2 separate regions of the Homo sapiens genome follow, and region 1 is linked to region 2. The links come from fine-mapping of genetic effects on gene expression. A gene starts in region 2. The other region holds a variant in brackets. All regions are shown on one strand. Distances are from middle to middle. Region 1 overlaps FAM161A (FAM161 centrosomal protein A). Region 2 holds the start of FAM161A (FAM161 centrosomal protein A).

Region 1 (5,383 bases), 22 kb after region 2:
GGTTAGATATTAAGATGAGGCTTCATGATATCACTTGGAGGTCTTTGAAGAATTAAAAAAATGAAACAAAATGGCTAATTGAATCAGAGTTATTTCTGCTAGTTTTTTTTTTTAAGTGAGTCTGTAATTCAATCTTCTCTGCAATTACTAAAAGAACTTCCTTTCTATACGAAAAACAAACTAGTCTTACGGACAGTGGACCCTGATTTTACTAAGTTTATGCCCGGTTTTACAACCTTTCCCTTAAGGGAAATTTGTCAATTTTAGGTCATCTTCTCCTTTGTCCCATAGGGGAGGCATCTGTATGGGTGACATGGCTTAACAATTGACAAAATCACTGGAGGTTACAGGTTCTAAATTGTGAATTTGAAGCTGTTATAATTGGACAATAGACAGTTGGAGAATTTACCTGTAACAGATGAGCATAGTTACAGAACTGTACTTGCCAGTGACTCATTGAGGACAGTGGACATGTATTGTGGGTGAATCTGCACATTACAGTCTCTCAAAGTTACGTAATCTTTTTGCTCACTGATCTAGATATAATTTTATATAATGCCTTTCATTTTAAGTGATGGATTTTTTTAACATCTTTATTTCAACTTTAGGGGGAAAAATCATTTTAAGCTGTTCTACATTATAATCATAAAGTGATTGGCTTTTGGCTCAAAGACATTATCTCCAGCTCTGAACTGCAAGTTTTTTGTTTTTGCTCTTTACACTGCTTCTGGGTTTTTCTTATTTATTTATTTATTTATTTTTTCAACTTTTATTTTAAATTCAAGGAGTATATGCGCAGGTTTGTTACAAGGGTATGCCAGGCGCCGTGGCTCACACCTGTAATCCCAGCCAGCATTTTGGGAGGCCGAAGCAGGTGGATCACCTAAGGTCAGTGGTTCGAGACCAGCCTGGCCAACATGGTGAAACCTTGTCTCTACTAAAAATACAAAAATTAGCCGGGCATGGTTTTGCGTGCCTGTAGTCCCAACTACTTGGGAGGCTGAGGCAGGAGAATTGCTTGAACTTGGGAGGCGGAGGTTGTAGTGAGCTGAGATTGCGTCATTGCACTCCAGCCTGAGCAACAAGACCAAAATTCTATCTCAAAAAAAAAAAAAAGGGTATATTGTGTGAGCTGGGGTTTGGGGTATGATTGAACTCATCACCCAGGTAATGAGCATAGTACCCAATAGGTAGGTTTTCAACCCTTGCCCTCCTCCCTCCACTCTCCCTCTTATATTCTCCAGTGTCTGTTGTTCTCATCTTTATTTCCATGTGTACCCAGTGTTTAGTTCCCACTTGTAAGTGAGAACATATGATGTTTGGTTTTCCGTTTCTGCTTTAGTTTGCTTAGGATAATGGCTTCCAGCTGTATCCATATTGTTGCAAAGGACATGATTTCATTCTTTTTTATGGCTGTGTAGTATTCCATGGTGTATGTGTAACATATTTTCTGTATCCAATCCACTGCTGATGGGCTGGGTTGTTACCATGTCTTTGCTGTTGTGAATAGCATCAGCACTTGTTATTGTCTGTCTGATTTTTTTAGAAAAATATTTTTAGAGACAGGGTTTCACTCTGTTGCCCAGGCCAGTGCAGTAGTACAATCATAGCTCACTGGAACCTTGAACTCCTGGGCTCAGATGATCCCCAGTATGAGCATCCCAAGTAGCTGAGACAAAGGCCCACACCATCATGCCCAGCTAATTTTATTTTTTGTAGAGACTGGGTCTCGCTGTATGGCCCAGGCTGGTCGTGAACTCCTGGCCTCAAGTGATCCTCCCACCTCCACCTCCCAAGTTGATGGGATTACAGGCATGAGCCACTGCACCTAGCTTTTGTCTGTCTTTTTGTTATAGTCTTCCTAGTGGGTACAAAGTGGTATTTTATTATTCAGTAACATTCTTTCAACTGTTCTTTTATCTTTTTCATTACAGACTCTATCTACTAGCTTATTGATATGGTAGGTGAGGATTTAGCTGTTTTAACACGTCCTCTCGGAAGCACACTTACCTACCCTTTCAACGTCTTTCCATCTTTCTGTTTCCCAGTCAGCTCTATCACAGTTAGATCGGAATTCAGTGTTATAACTTAGTAAACAATGTTAGCAGCTGAGCCCTATATTATTATCATCACATTTCCTTTTTTTTTTTTTTTTTGAGACAGAGTCTCACTCTGTCACCCAGGCTGGAGTACAGTGTCACAATCTCAGCTCACTGCAACCTCTGCCTCCTGGGTTCAAGCCATTCTCCTGCCTCAGCCTCCTGAGTAGCTGGGATTACAGGTGCGCGCCACCGTGCCTAGCTAATTTTTTTGTATTTTTTAGTAGAGACGAGGTTTCACCATGTTGGTCAGGCTGGTCTCGAACTCCTGACCTGATGATCCGTCTGCATTGGCCTCCCAAAGTGCTGGGATTACAGGCGTGAACCACCATGCCTGGCCCATCACATTTCCTTTAAAAAAATTTTTTCTTGTGTTAATAATTACTAATTTTGTTTGGTCCTCCCCCCACCTTCCCTCATTCCCCACCAATGTATGTATCATTATTATTCTTAGGCTTTTCTGTTAGCTCTCAAAAATCCCCCTCAAACAGTTAAACACATTCGTAATTCATCAGTTCCTTTCCTCCCCTGGAGCCCACAAGTGTCCTGCTCCACTTTGGAATGGTTTCTCTCTAGGCCAGCAGTCCTCAACCTTTTTGGCGCTAGAGACTGGTTTTATGGAAGACCATTTTTCCACAGACCAGGGTTGCGTGGGGTGGGGTGGATGGATCGGG[A/G]AATGGATCATTTCAGGATGAAACTGTTCCACCTCACATCATCAGGCGTTAGATTCTCATAAGGAGCATGCAACCTAGATCCCTGGCATGAGCACTTCACGATAGGGGTCACCCTCCTATGAAAATCTAACGCTGTAGGAGGCAGGGCTCAGGCCATAATGCTCGCCCTCCCACTGCTCACTTCCTGCTGTGCAGCCTGGTTCCTAACAGGCCACAGACCCGTACCTAGTTCGTGGTAGGGACCCCTGCTCTAGGCCTCTGGCATAAACGACATCTTAGGACTTTTTCACTGTTATACTGGGGAGTAGTTAGATATTAACCTGGATTTATCTACATTTCTTGTATTTCTTTTAAAATCACTGTTATTTTATTCTAGTTCTGGAAGATTTCCTCAAATTTATCTTCCAAATCTGCATTTTTTGCTTACCTAATGAAAAATGACATAATTTCCAGAATGCTTCCCATTTATTAAATATTCCTTTGGTATTTTTCATGGGTGCAGTACGTTTTTTTTTGTTGTTGTTGGTTTTTTGTTGTTGTTGTTGTTGGTTTTTTTTTGTGTGTGTGTGACAGGGTCTTACTCTGTCCCAGGCTGGAGTGCAGTGGCATGATCTCGGCTCACTGCAACTTTAACCCCTTGGGCTCAGGCAATCTTCCCACCTCAGCCTCCCAAGTAGTTAGGACTACAGGCACAAGCTACCATGCCAGGCTAATTTTTGTATTTTTTGTAAAGACAGGGGTGTTACTGTGTTGTCCATGCTGGTCTTAAGCTCCTGGGCTCAAGAAATCCTCCTTTCTCGGCCTTCCAAAGTGTCGGGATTCCAAGTGTGAGCCACCACACCCAGCCTGTCTTTTATATCTCTGAGCATACTGGTGATATTGTCTCTGTTTCCTTCAAGTTCCTTTTTCTCTTTTTTAGCCTCTTGTCTATCATATTAGAAGCTTTCCTCAGATTATCTTTGGTTGTCTGTTTGCATTTAAGAGGGAGACTGCACAAAGCTATTTGGAAGCTGGTTTATAATGTTTTTTGAGAGGTTGCTGAAAGACAAGCACTCCACTAAGCACTTTATATGCATTGTCTTAACTGACCTTTACACTGCTCCTGTGAGGTTCTTATTTCACAGATGAGGGACATCTTGAGGCTTAGATGATACAACCAGAAGAAGGGGAACCAGGATTCAAACCCAGATCTGACTGTCTTCATGTGATTCTTTTATCTATCATATTGTTTTCCTGCCCCCTTCTCAACAAATGCTTTTTGAATATCAGAAAATCCCTTGAGACCCTTAAAGTCAGATAGAAACAAGACAGACAAATGTAGTCATTCAAGACACACAATTGCAGCAATTACAGATGTGTGTTGAGACAAAATTGTGAATATGATTGTTTTGGAGGTTGGGGGAATGGTCAGATTGATATGTTATTTTTTTCTGTTAACCTCAATTCCAGGGAGCAGGTACATAACCTGGGAATACTAATATTTGTGTTAGTGACATGCGAGGCTTGTTCCAACAGGTCTAGAAAAAAAAAAGGAAAGTAAATAAATGCTAAATTAAAGGAATCATTATGGGTGATACTATAATACAAGAAAGAAAGTATGAAGTATTATTTGGGAAGACCAATATTGAACACATATGCAGCAATGATTTATTATAGTGCTGTTTGTCTAAGAAATATCTTTTTTTTTTTTTTTTTTTGAGAAGGCGTCTCACTCTGTCACCCAGGCTGGAGTGCAGTGGCTCGATCTCAGCTCACTGGAACCTCCGCCTCCCGGGTTCAAGTGATTCTCCTGCCTTAGCCTCCTGAGTATCTGTGATTACAGGCGCGTGCCACCATGCCTGGCTAATTTTTTTTGTATTTTTAGTCAAGACGAAGTTTCATCATGTTGGTCAGGCTGGTCTCGAACTCCTGACCTTGTGATCTGCCCACCTCAGCCTCTCAAAGTTCCGGGATTACAGATGTGAACCACCACATCCAGCCAGAAATATCTTTATATTAGAAAAATTAGGCCAGTGACTCACCCTGTAATCCCAACACTTTGGGAAACTGAGGGGGGGAGGATCATTTGAGGCCAAGAGTTTGAGACCAGTGTCTACTGTTCTCATTTTTTTTTTTTTTTTTTTTTGAGACAGGGTCTTACTCTGTCACCCAGGCTGGAGTGCAGTGGCGTGATCTCGGCTCACTGCAACCTCTGCCTCCTGGGTTCAAGTGATTCTCCTGCCTCAGTCTCCTGAGTAGCTGGGATTACAGGTGCACACCACCATGCCCGGCTAATTTTTTTTGTATTTTTAGTAGAGACGGGATTTCACCATGTTGGCCGGGCTGGTCCTGAACTCCTGACCTCAAGTGATCCACCTGCCTCGGCCTCCCAAAGTACTGGGATTACAGGAGTGAGCCACCGTGCCTGGCCTACTGTTCTCATCTTCATATCTGTGTGTACCCAGTTCCTCCCCATTCAGCTGGTCATTGAGAGACCTGTCAAATTTTCTTCCTAAATAATTTTTGGATCTGCCCTTCACCATCCTTGGTGGTGAAATGCCAGGTGGAACCTTTATTTCCTATCTGAATCATAATAGTTTGATTGATTTTTCTGCCTTGCTCTTTGCAGAA
Region 2 (5,383 bases):
ATTATTTTTAGCGGGTTTATAGCTTTATTTGACATATATGACAATTGGCAGTTAGTTCTCATCCACACTGACTATCTAGATTTTTGAAAGTGGTAACAGGTATACAGGTAACCACAGTATTGAGCTTGTTTGGTGAATTTTCATCCTTGTTATGTTTTCTGAACAATCGCACATGTACATGGTGTGGGACATTCCTTATTCCTTTGGCCCTGATAGCCTTGTTAAGCCTGGTATCAATGCACACATCTGGAGTGCCCATCTTCATGGCAAATTTCTGAATCTCTTTGAATGCCCACAGAGCATGCTTCTTGAAGCCCACTCCATGGATGTGAGCTAGTGACCCAAGTGTGTTCTTGGGTCACTACCTTGTTGATGGCAGAACAGCTCATCTTCTTGCCACCCTTCTTTGCAGGAGCCATTCTGCCAGGCCCAAGATGGAAAGGAAGAACATGAGGGACGGTGGGAGAAAGAAGGCCTAAACTTTTAAAAAGTGGCTGCACCATTTTACATTTAAGACATTTTGACACATTGTATTTTTGTTGTTATTTGACTCTCTAGATAATTTCTGCCATGACTTTTTCTGTAATGCACAAATTGTTTTTTGAAGAGTTTTAAATTTCCCAACTAAAAAGGCTTTTCTAGTTATTTTTCTTTTATAATGTCTAACTTGGCTGGGCGTGGTGGCTCATATCTGTAATCCCAGTGCTTTGGGAGGCCAAAGCAGGCGGATCACCTGAGGTCAGGATTTTAAGACCAGCCTGGTCAACATGGTGAAACCCTGCCCTCTACTAAAAATACAACATTTGCTAGGCGTGTTGGCAGGCACCTGTAGTCCCAGCTATTCGGGAGGTTGAGGCAGGAGAATCGCTTGAACCTGGGAGGCGGAAGTTGCAGTGAGCCGAGATCACGTCACTGCACTCCAGCCTGGGTGACAAGGAGACTCCATCTTAAAAAAAAAAAAATTGTTTTGTTAATTACAATAAATTATGTCAAAAACAAAGATAATTTCTTAAAACTCTTCACTTTCTTTTATGTTCCTTGCATCTACTGTATCTGTATGGTGGAAATACTATATAATGGTGTGCTACTAGACATCTTTTCTCAAATTCTTATTAAGTGATGTCACATTGGTGGCTTGAAATTGGCTATGATGGGAATATTGACATCATGGAAATCAGCAAAAGCTAAACATTGGACATTTAAACTTAAGAAACGGATGTGGAAAATATTAATGCAGAGTAAACTTAAAAGTTTGTGTTATCTGTAGCCTTTACATTGTGACTTGCAGAAAAAATTAAGAAAAATTATTCCAGTGTTAGAAAATGATTATCTATTTCAGCAAAGAAGTTGCTCATAACATTGACAAGTGAAATTCTGACATAGATCTTGGATATGTCACTCTCATCTTAATCACAAATAAAAACAAAAATATTAACCAACATTCATGTTGGAACTAGGTTGTTAAACAATTGCAACCATAAGTTGGCCACAAATACAGGAGTACAGCATAAACCAACGAAAGCATTCTGAGAGAAGCAATTGTCTATGAGGAATTTACAGTAAAGAGAATAGGATATTTCATTATTTATAATTCATCTGCTATAATTCCTTATCAATACTTTTGTTGGTGGTGGTGGTGGTGAGACGGAGTCTTGCTTTATTGCCCAGGCTGGAGTGCAGTGGCGCCATCCCGGCTCACTGCAACCTCCGCCTCCCGGGAGTGCGCCTGTAATCCCAGCTACTCCGGAGGCTGAGGCAGTTTTGTAGCCACAAAACTGGCTGCCGTGTCTGACTGGAAATTGCTCCCCTGGAAACTTGGCCACACCTGGCGGTGCATATCTCATGGTTCTGGCTCTGGCTTCTGCTTAGAACCCAGTCAGCATCTGTTCCAGCATGGGAAGCAACTGTTCAGCTAAAACCAAGAGCAGCCTGAAGGAAGTGGGGACGTAGGAGACTTTGTAGGTGCTCACACCCAGACAGGAGAACAAAGGTTTGGTAAGGGCTCAGACCTTAGAGACGGGTTCTCGACGATGTGCAGCGCATAACGAGGAAAATACTGACCGGAGGGGGCCGGTCGTAGGGCTGGGGAGCAGGAGGAGGGCAAAGGATAGAGAGGGGGTAGATAGGGAGTAGATAGGGGGCGGCAGCCTCGGCCTCAGTAAGCAGGGGCTCAGGGAGCAGATGTCTGAGACTGCACCACGTCCGCTATTTTGAGGTTTGGCTTCTCTTACTGCCACGTGGTGCAGAGGGAAGGCGCCATTTGATGCGTCCAAATCCCGAGTGGGAAGAGAAGATACGGATGAGGGAGATGGATGTGTCTGTGGTGACTCTTGGGCACTTGTGCCGTTCAATCCTGTCACTCTCAAGCTGAAGAACCCAAAGCAAACGCCAGGTTTACAATACCTGCACTATCACTCATTAGTGGGAGGGTCAGGCGCCACCCAACTCTGGGCTTTTATTGGTCATGTCAAGAAAAAAGCGAGAGGGACAACTGGGAGCCTCCTTCTGATTGGTGGATTCCTGCTAGCCCTCAAGTCAATCAGAGTAGAATGTACCGCCCTCCTTCCCACTCTGGCCCCCGCGGGAGACATGTTAGGTAGCGGGACGCCAACCTTGTCACTCTTCTGAGACCGCCACCCAGTAACACGCCCTGCTTTCCTCCGCCGCCGCCGTCTCCTCCATCAACTGTCTCCTTCTAACATGTTATTGCAGTTAATAAAAAAGCGTTCTTTTCTTCACAAAAGCAGTTGTTTCATTGTATAATGTGAGAAGTCTGCGTTCAGGCGGTTAGACGCAAAGGAGTGGAATAAGTGCCCTGTTCAGCCTGCCAACCTTCGGAACCAGCCAACAGACTCGGTACTGACTGCCATGATCCAGTAAGCACCCGACTCGGGTCTCTGGCAGCCTGAGTGGATTTTGCGTGACTTTTGGTCCCTGGCGGCTCCTGTAGCGTCCCCAGTTACGGCGCCCATAGCAACCGGCTCCCTAGCTAGGCGCCCCCGGGTTGCCAGGGGCCGCACCAGCTTTCCCGTCCCGGGCCAGCGCAGGCGCTCAGGCCTCGGAGGCGGGGCGATGGCCACCTCCCACCGAGTGGCGAAGCTGGTGGCCTCCAGTCTCCAGACCCCGGTAAATCCCATCACTGGAGCGCGGGTCGCCCAGTACGAACGCGAAGACCCCTTAAAGGCCCTGGCGGCAGCGGAGGCGATCTTGGAGGACGAAGAGGAGGAGAAAGTGGCTCAGCCCGCTGGGGCATCGGTAATACTGGGGCGGGACTTGGGCTGGGACCTCGCATGGGCTGGGTGCAGGCTGAGGGCTGTCCGGTTCCCCGCCCAGCTGAGGGCAGGCTGGTAAACGCGGGTCCCTGTGCACATAGTCCCTACTTGGTGGTCCTGGCCCAGCCCCTTCTCTACGCTCACGAAAATTACTCTAAATCGAGGCGTTGAAAAGTGTTTTAATTTTCACCAGTCTGTTGTAAAAGCTTCCTAGACAACATTTATGTTACTCTGCTTCTGGCAAGTGCAAAGTATAGAATTTTACTCTCTACTCTCCAGCATCTCGGGAATGGATATATAGAGATATATCTGGCTATATATAGTAATTTGAGGAAAACTGTTCTGTCAGGTGTGTTTCGTTATTACCTTAAGATCTTGGTTATAAGCGGATCTCAACATAGTGCTCTAAAGATGTGTGTTTAAAACCATCACGTGTTCACTGGCTAAATCAGACACGGATACAGATAAGCAAATCACTGAGGTTTCAGTGTTTCCTAAACAGCTCTTTAGGGTACAGCGAGACGGCCTTTTCACTGATCAGTTTTCATTGTTAAATCTGTTGTGGACACCAGTCCAGCAGGTAGAGGGCAGGGTCTGCCATCTGCTCAATTCACTTAAAAGATGGGAATCTTGGCCGGGCGCGGTGGCTCGTGCCTATAATCCCAGCACTTTGGGAGGCCGAGGTGGGCGGGTTACGAGGTCAGGAGTTCGAGACCAGCCTGACCAACATGGTGAAACCCCGTCTGTACTAAAAATACAAAATTTAGCCGGGCGTGGTGGTGCGCCCCTGTAATCCTAGTTACTCGGAAGGCTGAGGCAGGAGAATCGCTTGAACTTGGGAGGTGAGGGTTGCAGTGAGCTGAGATCTCAGACCCAGTCTCAAAAAAAAAAAAAAAAAAAAAAGATGGGAATCTTGAATTTAAACTAGCAATCTGCAGATAGAAAAAATTTCCTAATACCATGTGTCCAAAGCTTCTCAGACACCAAACTTATGATTGAGGACTAACTGAAATCACTGGATATTTTGGAATTCTGATCTCTTTAATCTACAGTAAAATTGTTAATGAGAACATCTTTAGCAACACCTTTTGTGACCAATCTTTCACCAACAGACAAACAACTTGAAGTTATCCAGAGTAAGGCAGACTGAGACCCTGAACATGAACCAGGATCAGAGTGCTAGGACCGATTTTGTTCATGATGAAGCTACCCCTCAACACAATTTTCAGTAGGCAACAAGGCAACGTGATGGAGAAAAAGGATTGAAGAGTTCTGTATTAGGATCCATTCCCTGCCACTTCCTAGGTGGTGTTAGGACATAATTTCCTTAAACCTCAGTTTCCTTATCTGTAAAATAACTATAATAATTGTCTCTTTTTTCCCATCTCAGCTCTATGAGAACCAAATGAAAGAATGTGTGTCTCCTCTAAAGAGCAATCTATGTAAATGAGTTGCCAGTGGGAGTGTCATTTGTGTGCCTTCCCAAAGATTAAACTCAACTTTGGCTTGCTGTGGTAAAGGAGTCAGTCACTTCTAAGTTGCAGATATGCTTCCACAGTGCCCTGTTAAACTGCAAATTTGTGTTAGAAACTGTTATTACCTTAGGAGGGATCAGTTTATACAATAATCTAGTTTGGAAAGGACAGGATCCTACAAAAAAAAAAAGGAAGCCAAGTCTTAAGAGTTTGGTACTGTTCTGAGACCACCACACATGAGGGATCCAAAAGTAAAGCTGGGTAAGCTGCCACAGTGGGCCTGATAGCCAGGGGGCACAGGCTGGGGGAAGAGGCATTAAGAAGGCAGGAAGAGTGCAGGAAATAGGCTCTGCTTTCTTCACTGGTTGGCTTGGGTCTCCATCTTGATTTTTAAAGGTTAATTTGCCTTAACCTTATTATCTATAAAATGTAGTAAAGTCAAATATTATACCTAACCCACAAGATTGATTTGAGAACCACCCATCACAATAGGCCTCTTTCAGCTCTTTGGTTTTGCCAAAGCCAGACCACTCATCCCACCCCACACTGCCCCCCAACCCCCCAACCCCTGCACCATCCCTATACACCCTCCCAGCTCTGGCATACACACGCACCCCCCTTGCAGTGCCCATATTG

What was found. PIP is the estimated chance that this variant, and not a neighbour inherited with it, causes the effect. A credible set is the group of variants that fine-mapping cannot tell apart.
Region 1: its variant is the best candidate, but not a certain one, in a credible set for the expression of FAM161A in whole blood (INTERVAL, PIP 0.68).

What each region holds. Positions count from the first base shown.
Region 1 is chr2:61,830,199-61,835,581 of GRCh38, reverse strand. The region is part of intron 5 of FAM161A (FAM161 centrosomal protein A); the gene reads left to right. Among named protein-coding and RNA genes, the nearest start is that of FAM161A, 21 kb to the left of the region's middle. The variant A/G (reference allele first, on the strand shown) is at 2,774.
Region 2 is chr2:61,851,731-61,857,113 of GRCh38, reverse strand. It overlaps FAM161A (FAM161 centrosomal protein A), which reads left to right and starts at 3,054. Exons shown (of 7, transcript NM_001201543.2): 1 at 3,054-3,255. The coding sequence starts at 3,073. It also overlaps the pseudogene RPL31P30. RefSeq lists enhancers at 1,861-1,910, 2,651-2,880, 3,121-3,280, 3,441-3,570.